Regions from separate parts of the Homo sapiens genome. Here region 1 is linked to region 2. The links come from fine-mapping of genetic effects on gene expression. A gene starts in region 2. The other region holds a variant in brackets. All regions are shown on one strand. Distances are from middle to middle. Region 1 overlaps ZNF664-RFLNA (ZNF664-RFLNA readthrough). Region 2 holds the start of RFLNA (refilin A).

Evidence for each region. PIP is the estimated chance that this variant, and not a neighbour inherited with it, causes the effect.
Region 1: its variant is fine-mapped to the expression of RFLNA in fibroblasts (GTEx, PIP above 0.99). The same link has a PIP of 0.9 or more in aorta, tibial artery and visceral fat.

Annotation. Positions count from the first base shown.
Region 1 is chr12:124,234,477-124,239,848 of GRCh38, reverse strand. The region is part of intron 3 of ZNF664-RFLNA (ZNF664-RFLNA readthrough); the gene reads right to left. Among named protein-coding and RNA genes, the nearest start is that of RFLNA, 58 kb to the left of the region's middle. The variant G/A (reference allele first, on the strand shown) is at 3,024.
Region 2 is chr12:124,292,625-124,297,996 of GRCh38, reverse strand. RFLNA (refilin A) reads right to left here and starts at 2,904. Exons shown (of 3, transcript NM_001365156.1): 1 at 2,361-2,904. The coding sequence starts at 2,567. All of the region lies in intron 3 of ZNF664-RFLNA (ZNF664-RFLNA readthrough), which reads right to left.

The DNA.
Region 1 (5,372 bases), 58 kb after region 2:
ATTTCAGATAAGGAATACAGAGAGAGTTGGCTCATCATAACTGAAGCGGAAACCTGGACACGGAGAAGGCAGAGAGTGCTGGGACCATCAGGCGCGGGGCTGTGAGAAGCTTTGTGTGAACATTATGAGTACAAGAAACAGTGGGGAAAAGAAAAAGTCATCAGAGAAGGGGGTGAGGTGGGTGAAGCTGTACAAGGATGGAGTGGCAGAGGCCAGGACAGAGAGTGGCCAGCCCCCCATGCTGGCATGGGACAGATGACCCAGCGTTGCTGAGATCACAAGACACTGATTGCTAGAGCCTGCATTGGTTGTCAGCATCTCCCAGGTCCCCAACTCCCGCACAGGCCCGGGATGCCTGGAGTCCCCTGTTCCCGGGTCCTGTGAGAGTCATCTCACTTTGATTTTCCAACGCAACATTTGGTAGGACAGTTGTTGGTTGGGAAACTTCTTTCACTTCTAGATGGCTCATGGATCTGGGTCTGGAGATGCTGGGATCTGCTGACGGGCCCTGAAATCTTTCTTCCTCCTTCCCTTTCAGAAACAACTCTCAAGAAACCAACTTGCTTGGCTCAGTCTCCCCGAAATCCTGTGGCCTGCAGCCTTTGGAACTGGGTTTATTTATTCATTTGAATTGGATCCTGGCATTTCTTTGTGTTTGTTCTCTCCATAAAGACCTTTTTATTTGGGTCCTGGAGAGCTGTTTACTGCTTAGCTCATGTGACATGAAGATTGTGAGGACCTGGAGGCCTTAACTCCTGTTACTCCCCAGCGAACTCTGCCCTCCAGGGAAACAGGTGGGGCTCCATCCAGATAAGAACAGCCTTTCCAAACAGGAACGACCTCACTCCCCAAACGCAAAGAGCTTAGAGATTAAAAATGCAGGCAACCTCCTACCCACTCATCCCAGGAAGGTGCAGAGTCCTAGGGACCCACTGGGAGAGGGCTGGATTGCTGTAATTAAAAGTACTTTTAAATGAGCATTTTGAAGTTTTCTTGTTCTTGGTTTAAAAAAATTAAAAAGCTAAGAAGGCTGAAACTGGGTAAAGGGGCTTTAGGCGTGGTGAGATGAAGATCCCGGTGAATTTTGGAGAGTGCTGTCAGTCCCGGGCTGTGGGCAGAGGCTGGCTTGACCAGGGGTCCTGAAAGGAGTGGACGGGTCAAAAGCAGACAAAGGAAACGTGGGTCACTCGCATGAGTTGCAAAGGGAAGGAGAGAAATCGAACAGTCCGTCATCAGACAAGTCCAAGGAAAGAGATGTTTTACTTCAAGAACTGGGAAGAACCAAGCATCTTTGAAGATGGAAGGGTTTTGTAGGGAAAGAGGGGAAGATGTTTTGGAGGAGGGTTGAGAAAGCAAGCAAAACTTGGAGGTAAATGAAAAAGGGTCAGACTCAAGAGCGGATGGAAGGGTGGGAGTAGAGATGAAAAATAATATTTGATTTATTGACTGAAGGGTTTTGATGCCGTGGGCAGGGCAGCGAGCGTTTTGCAGGTAATACTCCTCATAGCATCCCCCTGACATAGACAATACTATAGTACCCATTTTCCAGGCTCTCTCACCTGTTACAGGCATTCTCCTCTCCTCGAGGAGAACGAGGCTTACAGAGGTGGGACCTGTCTGTGGCCACACTGGGCAGATGCAGAATAGGATCTCATGAGGTGTCCATCAGAGGAGAACAGCTCATCCTCTGAGGGTGGAGGAAGGATGTCCTGGAGTGGCAATGTCCAATAGAAATAGAATTTGAGGCCAGGCACGGTGGCTCACGCCTGTAATCCCAGCCCTTTGGGAGGCCGAGCCAGGCAGATCCCCTGAGGTCAGGAGTTCGAGATCAGCCTGGCCAACATGGTGAAACCCTGTCTCTGCTAAAAATTAGCTGGGCGTGATAGCACACGCATGTAGTCCCAGCTACTCGGGAGCCTGAGGCAGGAGAATCGCTTGAACCCAGGGGCCGGAGGTTGCAGTGAGCTGAGGTTGCACCACTGCACTCCAGCCTGGGCGGCAGATCGAGACTCCATCTCAAAAAAAAAAAAAGGCCAGGCCCAGTGGCTCACACCTGTGATCCCAGCACTTTGGGAGGCCGAGGCGGGTGGATCACCTGAGGTCAGGAGTTTGAGACCAGCAAGGCTAACGTGGCGAAACTCCGTCTCTGCTAAAAATATAAAAATTACTCGGGAGGCCGAGGCAGGAGAATCGCTTGAACCCGGGAGGCAGAGGTTGCAGTGAGCCGAGATGGTGCCATTGCACGCCAGCCTGGGCGACAGAGCAAGACTCCATCTCAAAAAAAAGAAATGGAATTTGAGCCACAAGTGCAAACTGTGTGTGTATTTTGAATTTCCTAGTGGCCACACTAACAAGGGTGAAAAGAAACAGGTGAACAGGTGAAATTAATTTTCATAATGTAATTTACTTAGCCCAGTATATCTGAAATATTATCATTTCAACACGTGATCAGTATATACAAATTATTAAGGTGATATTTTGCATGATTTTTCCATACTAAGCCTTTGGAATTCGGTGTGTATTTCACATGTGTGGCGTATCTCCATGTGATCCATCTCCACCCGAAGGGAGAAAGCACTCAGTAGCCCCACAGGGCTGGTGGCTGCCATATTGGTAGGCAGAGAACTAGAGAATGACTCCTTCAGGAACTACTAAGCCATATCTTGGGGTCATAAAATGAGGAATCTTCAGGTTGGCTTCAGGCCCAAGACTTGTTACATATTTTTTAAAATAAACTTTTTAATTTGAAATAATTTTAGATTTACAAAACCATTGTATTCTTATGTATCTCAAACTCTAGAATCTTCCTGCGGCAGCTCAGGGTACATCAGCTGGTCCACAGAGTCTGGCATATTCAGGGCATAGGACTTTTGGGGTTTTGAGAAGTCAGACCAAGGCTGACCCAATTACTTGGGTGATCAGAGTCAGAATTCCCCAGAAATTACTCAGGGTATTGAGACTCTGTGGAATGTTCCAGAGTCCATGATAACAGAGGGAGCTGTAAAATATCTAAGTTATGATTC[G/A]GTTTTCTAATTACACCCAACTTCCTCTCTGGGTGAGCAACAGCTTCTCAGCTAACATTTACTCCCAAGGTGGTGGCCGGGGAGTGGGCACAGGACAGGAGACACCAGAACAATTGAGCGGTGTCAACAGCCGCTCTGGCCAGAAGTATCTGTCAGCTCCCGACTGACTGCAGCCACCCTGTCCAATAGAAACAGAATTCAAGCTGCATATGTAGTTTTAAATTTTCTATTGGCCACATGAAAAAATAAAAAGAAGTAGGTGAAGATAATTTTAATAACATATATTCCTTAACCCAGCACATCTAAAATATTACCATTTCAACAGGCCAACAATATTAAAAAATACGAATGAGATAGTTTACATTATTTTTTGGTACCAAGTCTTCGAAATCCAATGTGCATTTTATACTTATTTGTATGTCAATTTGCATGTTATATGTTAATGGAAAATTTGTAAAGTTATGTACATTTCATCAGTTATTTAAAAACTGTAAATTCCATAAAAGACTCCGTTCACAGTTGAAAAGCTAGATTCACCTTCTAAAGTTGTTTCAAACATACTTCAAAAGTTTCCTAACAACTGAATCAAGTATCAGTTTTTGAATTTAGGTTGATTAAAATTAAATTAAACTAAAAATCCAGTTTCTCAGTTGCATTGGCCACATTTCAGGGTTCAGTAGCCACATGTGGCCAGCAGCTACCATATTGGACAACAGCCGTTAACACACTGGGCACCTCCTGTTAACACTGGATTTCTTTTTTCAGCTCCAGCTCTGTCTCCTTGCCTTTAGCTTGTCCAAGTAAATCTTCAGACTTGGTTTTCTCATCATCAATTTGTCCTCGCTTTGCACTTTTCACCCAGCGAGGGCTTTGCCAATATGGTTGGCTTATGCCAAGGACTTCCGCTTCTGAGATGGAGACTTGTCTGGGGCATGGCTTGCCTTTGTTTTTCTAGATCCCCATCAACATCGGTCCTTGTGGAAACTACTCAAGGGGCTGTGGTGTAATTTGCAGGTCCTCTGCCCTTAGGAGGAGCACAGAAGTTGATGACGGAAATTGTTCTCTATGGTGCTGTCCTGATTTTTTTTTCCTATCCCCTCCTGAGCATTTGAACTGTAAGCCACCATTTCCAGGGCGATGCTGTGGGTGTGTTTATCTTGGCGTCTCAGGGAGGGGAGCCCTCCCAGCCTTGGTCATGTGGCTGTCAGCACAACACACCTGTTTTCTGTTTCTGGTGGTTGATGGGGACTCACTCACTGAATTTTGGGTCTTCCTTAAGTGCTTAAATTAGAGTAAGCAAATAAATAACAGGGGAAAGGGAGTTTTAGAAATTGTATGTACAAACCACTAAAATTTACTATACAACTTCCTCAGCCACAGATATTTTTCTAGGGAATTTGAACAGAGCCATAAGAAGTTTCTCTTCCTGGCAGGAGACGACCCTGATCTGTTTTCAGCCTAGGGGGCGTTGCACAAGAGTGTTGGTGCTATGACAAGATAGCGGTTCCCAATGTTCTTAAGGAGTTTTTCATCTGGAACCACTTGTGGCACCCTTAGGGTATTTCAAGCATTGAGGCATTCTAAAGATGGCTCATTTGTGGATGGTAGTCCTGATGGTGGTGATGATGGTAATGATGGTGGTGATGACAGTGATGACAGTGATGACAGTGTGATGACAGTGATGACCCTGATGATGGTGATGGTGGTGGTGATGGTGATGGTGATGATGGAGGTGATGGTGGTGATGGTGGTGGTGATGGTGATGGTGATGGTGATGATGGTGGTGGTGATGGTGATGGTGATGGTGGTGGTTATGGTGATGGTGATAATGATGGTGGTGGTGATGATGATTATGGTGGTAATGGTGATGATGGAGGTGATGGTGGTGATGGTGGTGGTGGTGGTGACAATTGGATTAACTGGAACCCAGACCTACCAGAGGACTGCATGGAAAAATGCTTTAGCAATTCATGTCATCTTTCTGGACCTCGGATTTCTTCATGAGTATGACAAGGCCTCTCCCCAGATATTCTCTAGGGTCCTTAACATTTTATTATCCTCAAACTGCAATGCTGTCATGGTGATGGTGATCATGGCAATGATGACAATATTAAGAATTAAAGTGATGCAGAAGGACCATCAGGCATGATAATTCGCCAAAAAAAATCTCTAATGATGTTAATTTTTGACTTTATAATTTATGTTGTGGCTCTTGATCAAACCTGTTCATGTTTTCCCTGTATAAAACTCATAGGTGAAACTTCTCTTTCCTTTTTAACTGTGAAGAATCACAAGTGGTGGTATTGCATGTTAGTTCCTTTTTCAAAAACCCACAGGGTTTATGTATTC
Region 2 (5,372 bases):
CAGCACAGGTTTCCGCCTCTTTGTCCTGAGACAGTATGGGGTGCCGATATTTGCACCTAAAAAGCACTCTCCCTGAGTCGTCAGTGAGCAGGGTGCGGTTAAACACCGCTCAGCAAAGTTTAGCGGGAGTTAACGGGGAGGTGGGGCGCCCTGTGGGGTGGGCGATGGGTGGGTGGGCATGGCCACAGCGGCAAGCCCCAAAGCTGAGAAGAGTGGGCGCCAGGCAATCCTTTCTCCCTTTTATTGAAAGCAGCCCTTCAAACCTGGTAGGTACACAGGCATTTTGTTTTCCAATAAAAAAAAAATCACAGGTAGTTAATTAGCTGCACAGTGAAAAGGGGGATAATATGAGGTTGAAGGGCAGACTCTGCAGTCAGACTCTCTGGGTCTAGCCCAGCACAGCCGCTTCCTGGCTGGGCAACTTTGGGCAGGTTGCTAACCTCCTCTGTGCCTTGGCTTCCGCCTCTGGAAAATGGGGCTAATTGGAGTGTAGGCTTCATGGGAATATAGTGAAAATTAAATGAATTGGTGTAAATAAAGAGCTTAGGACAGTTATCCTGGCACACGGTATGAGCTATCTAAATGCCAAGTATCATAACCCATGAGGAAACAGCCCCGGGCTTTGCTTTTAAGCCAAATTAGAAGATCAGGGCAACACAGTTTCATACCTGGCATCTAGTGAGCAGGAAGGGGAAAAAATAAAGTCAAGTAGAAGAGCCAAGACAAGTAAGCCAGCCATGCTATTCTTGCGGCAGCCACGGGCTGGCCCGGATGGCAGAGAACGCTTCCAGAAAACCCTCTGTAAGGAGGCTTCTGGGTCATGGAAGGAACCAAGGAGAAGGCGGATTCCAGGTCGTTTTTCTCCAAGCCCCACTGTGCAAGGCACCACGGGGATTCAGTCCCAAAGTGTGCAGCTCAAATGGGCGACAGTGCCAAGTCCCAGAGGCTCTGGCAGGAAAGCTGGCCCCCTTTAGACAGCAAGATCAGGTTCACTTCAAACAGCCCTGGTCACCTCTATCAACTCCTGGAAGTCCTCACTGCCCCTTCCACCCGCCAGGCTCCCATAAAGAGACCAAAGTTCAAATTTGCTGCATGATTTGGTCTAAGATAGTGACTCCCAGACTTTGCTGAACAGTACAATCACCCAGGGAGACTGAAACCCTCCTGATGCCGAGCTGCACCCCCTATCAATTCAGTGAGACTATCTGGGCGGTGAGTGTGGGTGGGTTTTAAAGATTCTCCAAGTGATTCCAATGGGCGACCAAGTTTGGGACCCACCAGGCTAAGAAACAAGCAAGGCACGAATGAAGGTCATATCCTGAGGCTTGAGGCCGGGGAGCCGCTCCTTTCCGCTGTGGGGAGGAGGATTTTCAGCGGCGGGGAGGCCTTTTTTGCCCTGTGAGTGCCAGGCAAGAATCCCCGGGGCCCCAGGAAAGGGGAGTGGAGCCAGCACACACGCCCCAGCAGTAAAGCTGTTAAGGTGGGCAGGGCGCAGCCAGAGAGCGGGCAGGGATGGGCAATCACTCATTTCAACTTGTCATTTCCTCAGGCTGCAAAGGCGCCCGCTCGGCCCATATGCTTCCCCGCCTGCCGGGGGGTGCCCAGTCTCAGGCAAGGCGCCAAGCTGGGTCCCCACCGGAGTCCACCCCCAGGCTGGACTTAGTCTGGCAGGAGACAAACTCCTGAGTTTCCTGACCCGAGGTTCCAGCCTCCCCCTCCCGCCTAAGCTCCACGTCAACATGCCTTAACATCCCGGGAAGGAAGGAATCCTGTCTGGGTTTGGTTATTTAAAAAAAAGAAAAGAAAAGAAAAGAAGAGAAGAGAAGAGAAGAGAAGAGAAGAGAAGAGAAGAGAAGAAGAGAGAGAGAGAGAGAAAGAAAGAAAGAAAGAAAGAAAGAAAGAAAGAAAGAAAGAAAGAAAGAAAAGGCTTTCACATTGGCAGCGCCCGGACAGTAAACAGGGCACCCGGAGCAGCAGAGGGGCCGGGTCCAGATGTCTGCAACATGCTGGGCCTCTGGGCGCAAGCCCACCTAGCCAACAGCCAACTTCTTTGGGAATTTCGGACCGTCCTTTACCCCGCCCCATGAGCCCCCCATTATTACTGACAATAGGAAGAATCACTCTGGAGGGAGGCCCACCGCCAGGGAGCCGTCTCCAGGTCCGGGGTCAGCCTGGATCACCTCCCCCTACACACCCTGGTCCCCACCTGAGAAGCGTGGCTGTCACTGGCCACCTTCGTGGTTGCGGGGCAGGTAGAGGAGGAGGCACGTCCTGCTGCTGCAGTGGCGCGCGTCTCTGGGGGCAGCCCTCACCCACCCGCCCACGCGGTCCCCCGTTTGGGAGAGAGAGCGCCTCCTTACCGCTCTGGCCTCGCTGGGTCCCGGGGGCTCCGAGGAGGCGCCGGCGCCCCCCGCGCGCGCGTCGAGGATGCCGGGCGCCAGGGAGTAGAAGGGCGGGCTGGGGCTGGGGCTGGGGGGCAGCCCGGAGTCGGGGCTGTCCAGCAAGCCCTCCCGGCCCTGCTCCTTCAGGCTGTCCTCCATGCCCTGCAGATGCAGGTGGCCCACCATGTCTGGGGGGCGCGGGGCGCGGGCCCCCCGCTCCTCCGGGGGCTTCTCCACCGCGCTCCGGGGCCCGGGGCAGGCGGCGGCGGGGCGAGAGCTGCGCGCCCGGGGACCTGCGGGCACCGCGAGAGGCGGCGATCAGGCCCGGCGCCCCCCGCGCCCCGGATCCCCGCGGGCCTGCAGCCTGCTCGCCGCCGTGGGCCGCGCTCCTGCCAGCGCCGCCGCCCTCCGCCCTCCGCCCTCCGCGGCTCCCGCCCGCCGGGCCCAGCCTCGCCTCTGCGCTGCGCTGCGATCCCGCAGGCCGGCCCAGCCCCGAGGCGCACGTTGCCGCCCGGCCCTCTCCGCACCTCCCCGGCCCGCGCCTCCTTTTCTAGGCGCCTCCTCCTCCCCCTTCCTCTCCCCGCCCCGGCCTGCGCGGTGGGCAACAGCCCCGGCCCGGCGCCTCCGCCGAGGCCCTCCCGCTCCTGGGCACTGCGCGCCCAGCCAGCAGCTGGAGTCCCACGAGGCGCGTGTGTCCCCCACTCCCGGAACAAGCACCACACTGGCGCACCGAGGGTGCCTTGTGGGGTCCCCAAGTCATCCCAAGACATACGAGTAATCATCATCATCCTATTTCGTGGTGCTCTTGGAGGTTTTCTCCATCTCATTTGAAGTCCCAATAAAAGCAGCTTGAGAAACTTTATTTTAGAGTTTTCTTTTTCTCTGTAACTTACAATCGATGGGGAGGAGGGCCACCACAGCCCTAGTACTGGCGTCTCGGTTACCCGCACACCCAGGGCCAGCTCTTTGGGCCTTAAGGGTGGAAAGCATTGGGTGGAACCTGTGGGTGGGGGCGGCGGGGGCGATGAGCAGCACTTCCGGGAATCCCCCGGCATCTGGCTGTTCCTGCATTTTTTCCAGGCAGGTCCTCGCTCATGAACAAGGGTCCTGCCGGTCTTTCCCTTCTTTTCCTTCCTCCCAAGAGAGAAGAACACGTGTTTCCCTTCCTTACTGTTTTCTTATCAGATGCCTGGCAAAGGATGTCTGCATTTCCAGCGCCCAGCCACACAGACGCCCCCCACCCCACTCCTGAGGATCCATCCTTCCATTCTGCAAGCGGGGCAGCTGGGGGTGTCCACGGACTGCTTTGAAAAGCAGGAATGTGGGAGAGGCTAATAGGGCGAAGAGAACAGAGGTAGACTCCAGGAGGGGTGAAAGTGTGCCCAGACACACTCACTTCCATTCAGCTTACAGCAGAAAGCCCAAGATCAGGGGCGGGAAGCCGGGTGTCAGAATCCGCTCTTTGGACACCCCCAAACTGAGGGCAGCACTTTGAAGATGTTCTCAGGCTCCCATTCCGCACCCAGCCTTGGCCGGACCTCAGAACGGGCAGGCGTAAGACAGCAGGCCCCTGCCCTGTGGAGGGCCCAGTCTGATGAGGGAGCCTGTCAATGCACCAGGAAGCTAAGGCTGTGAGTCTAAGGGAAGGAACTTAATGAGGTGCTGCAACCAAGAATAGTCAAAGGGACAACTTAAGGCTTTGGAGTGTTCAGGGAAGGCTTCTTGGAGGAGGCGATTTTCAAAGATAAGATCTGAATAGCCAAGCAGTGAGAATTAGCGCACCATGTGGAGGGAACAGCAGGGCGCAGGCCCTGCAGCAGCAGGAGTAAGGTGCATGCCGGACACTGACAGAGGGTGGGGCCGCTTCCTGAGAGCCCACAGGGTGACAGGCATGCACCTGTCACCAGGTGAATTTACAGCCCATTTCCATGTCGCCCAGGAAAGAACGCTGGAAGTCTGCTGCCCAAACAGACCCAACTAACCAGAGGTTTGAATATTTGGAACATTCTGGGAAAAAAACAATGGGACTACGGATTCCATTTGCTTCAATTCTTAGGCAAGCCAGGCCCTCTTCAGCCCTTGGGCCACTTGACCAGAATGACTGGCTGAACTACTGTCACTGACTAGGACGAAAGCGGTGGGGGGAGGGGGCATTCTTTCTGGAACACAGACACATGGAAATTCACATTTCCCAAATGCTCACCCACCCAGACCCAGTAGTCTTCTGCTTCCCTGGAGAAAGTCTTCGGCAAGAACTAATTTCTTCTTATCTCAGGGACTAATGACCCCTTGGCCACAATAGCTACCCAGGGCAGGGCAGGATGCGGGCAAGGTGGAGTCTCAGAATTGCAGGGTTCCTCTGTCTTTATTTGAAATGTTGATATTTTGAGGCCTGGTGCGGTGGCTCACGCCTGTAATCCCAGCACTTTGGGAAGCTGAGGCGGGTGGATCCCCTGAGGTCAGGAGTTTAAGACCAGCCTGGCCAACATGGTGAAATTCTGTCTCTACTAAAAATAACAAAAAAATTAGCCGGGCGTGGTGGCGGGCGCCTGTAATCCCAACTACTCAGGAGGCTGAGGCAGGAGAATTGCTTGAACTCAGGAGGTGGAGGTTGCAGTGAGCTGAGGTCATGCCACTGCACTCCAGCCTGGGCAACAGAGCAAGACTCTGTCTCAAAATAAGATAAAATGTTGATGTTTTGTTCATCTTGAACTGTTTGCATCCATTTTGACTTTTAAAACATTGCAGCGAAATACCATTTGTGGTGATTTCTGTGTTTGGGCGATGTCCTGAAAGTCCCTTGCCCCACTCTACTAATCCTGGCCCCCTTGTGCCATTCATCTTGATCTAGAAGCCCGCTTATCAAGAGTGCCTTCATGACTATGCCCACCTGGGTTCTGGAAGTTTCCCCTGAAACAGGCTGCCCTGTGTGGATAACCGTCAGAGATATGTGCACACCAGACAGCAGGCAGAACATGAGTGCACTACAAA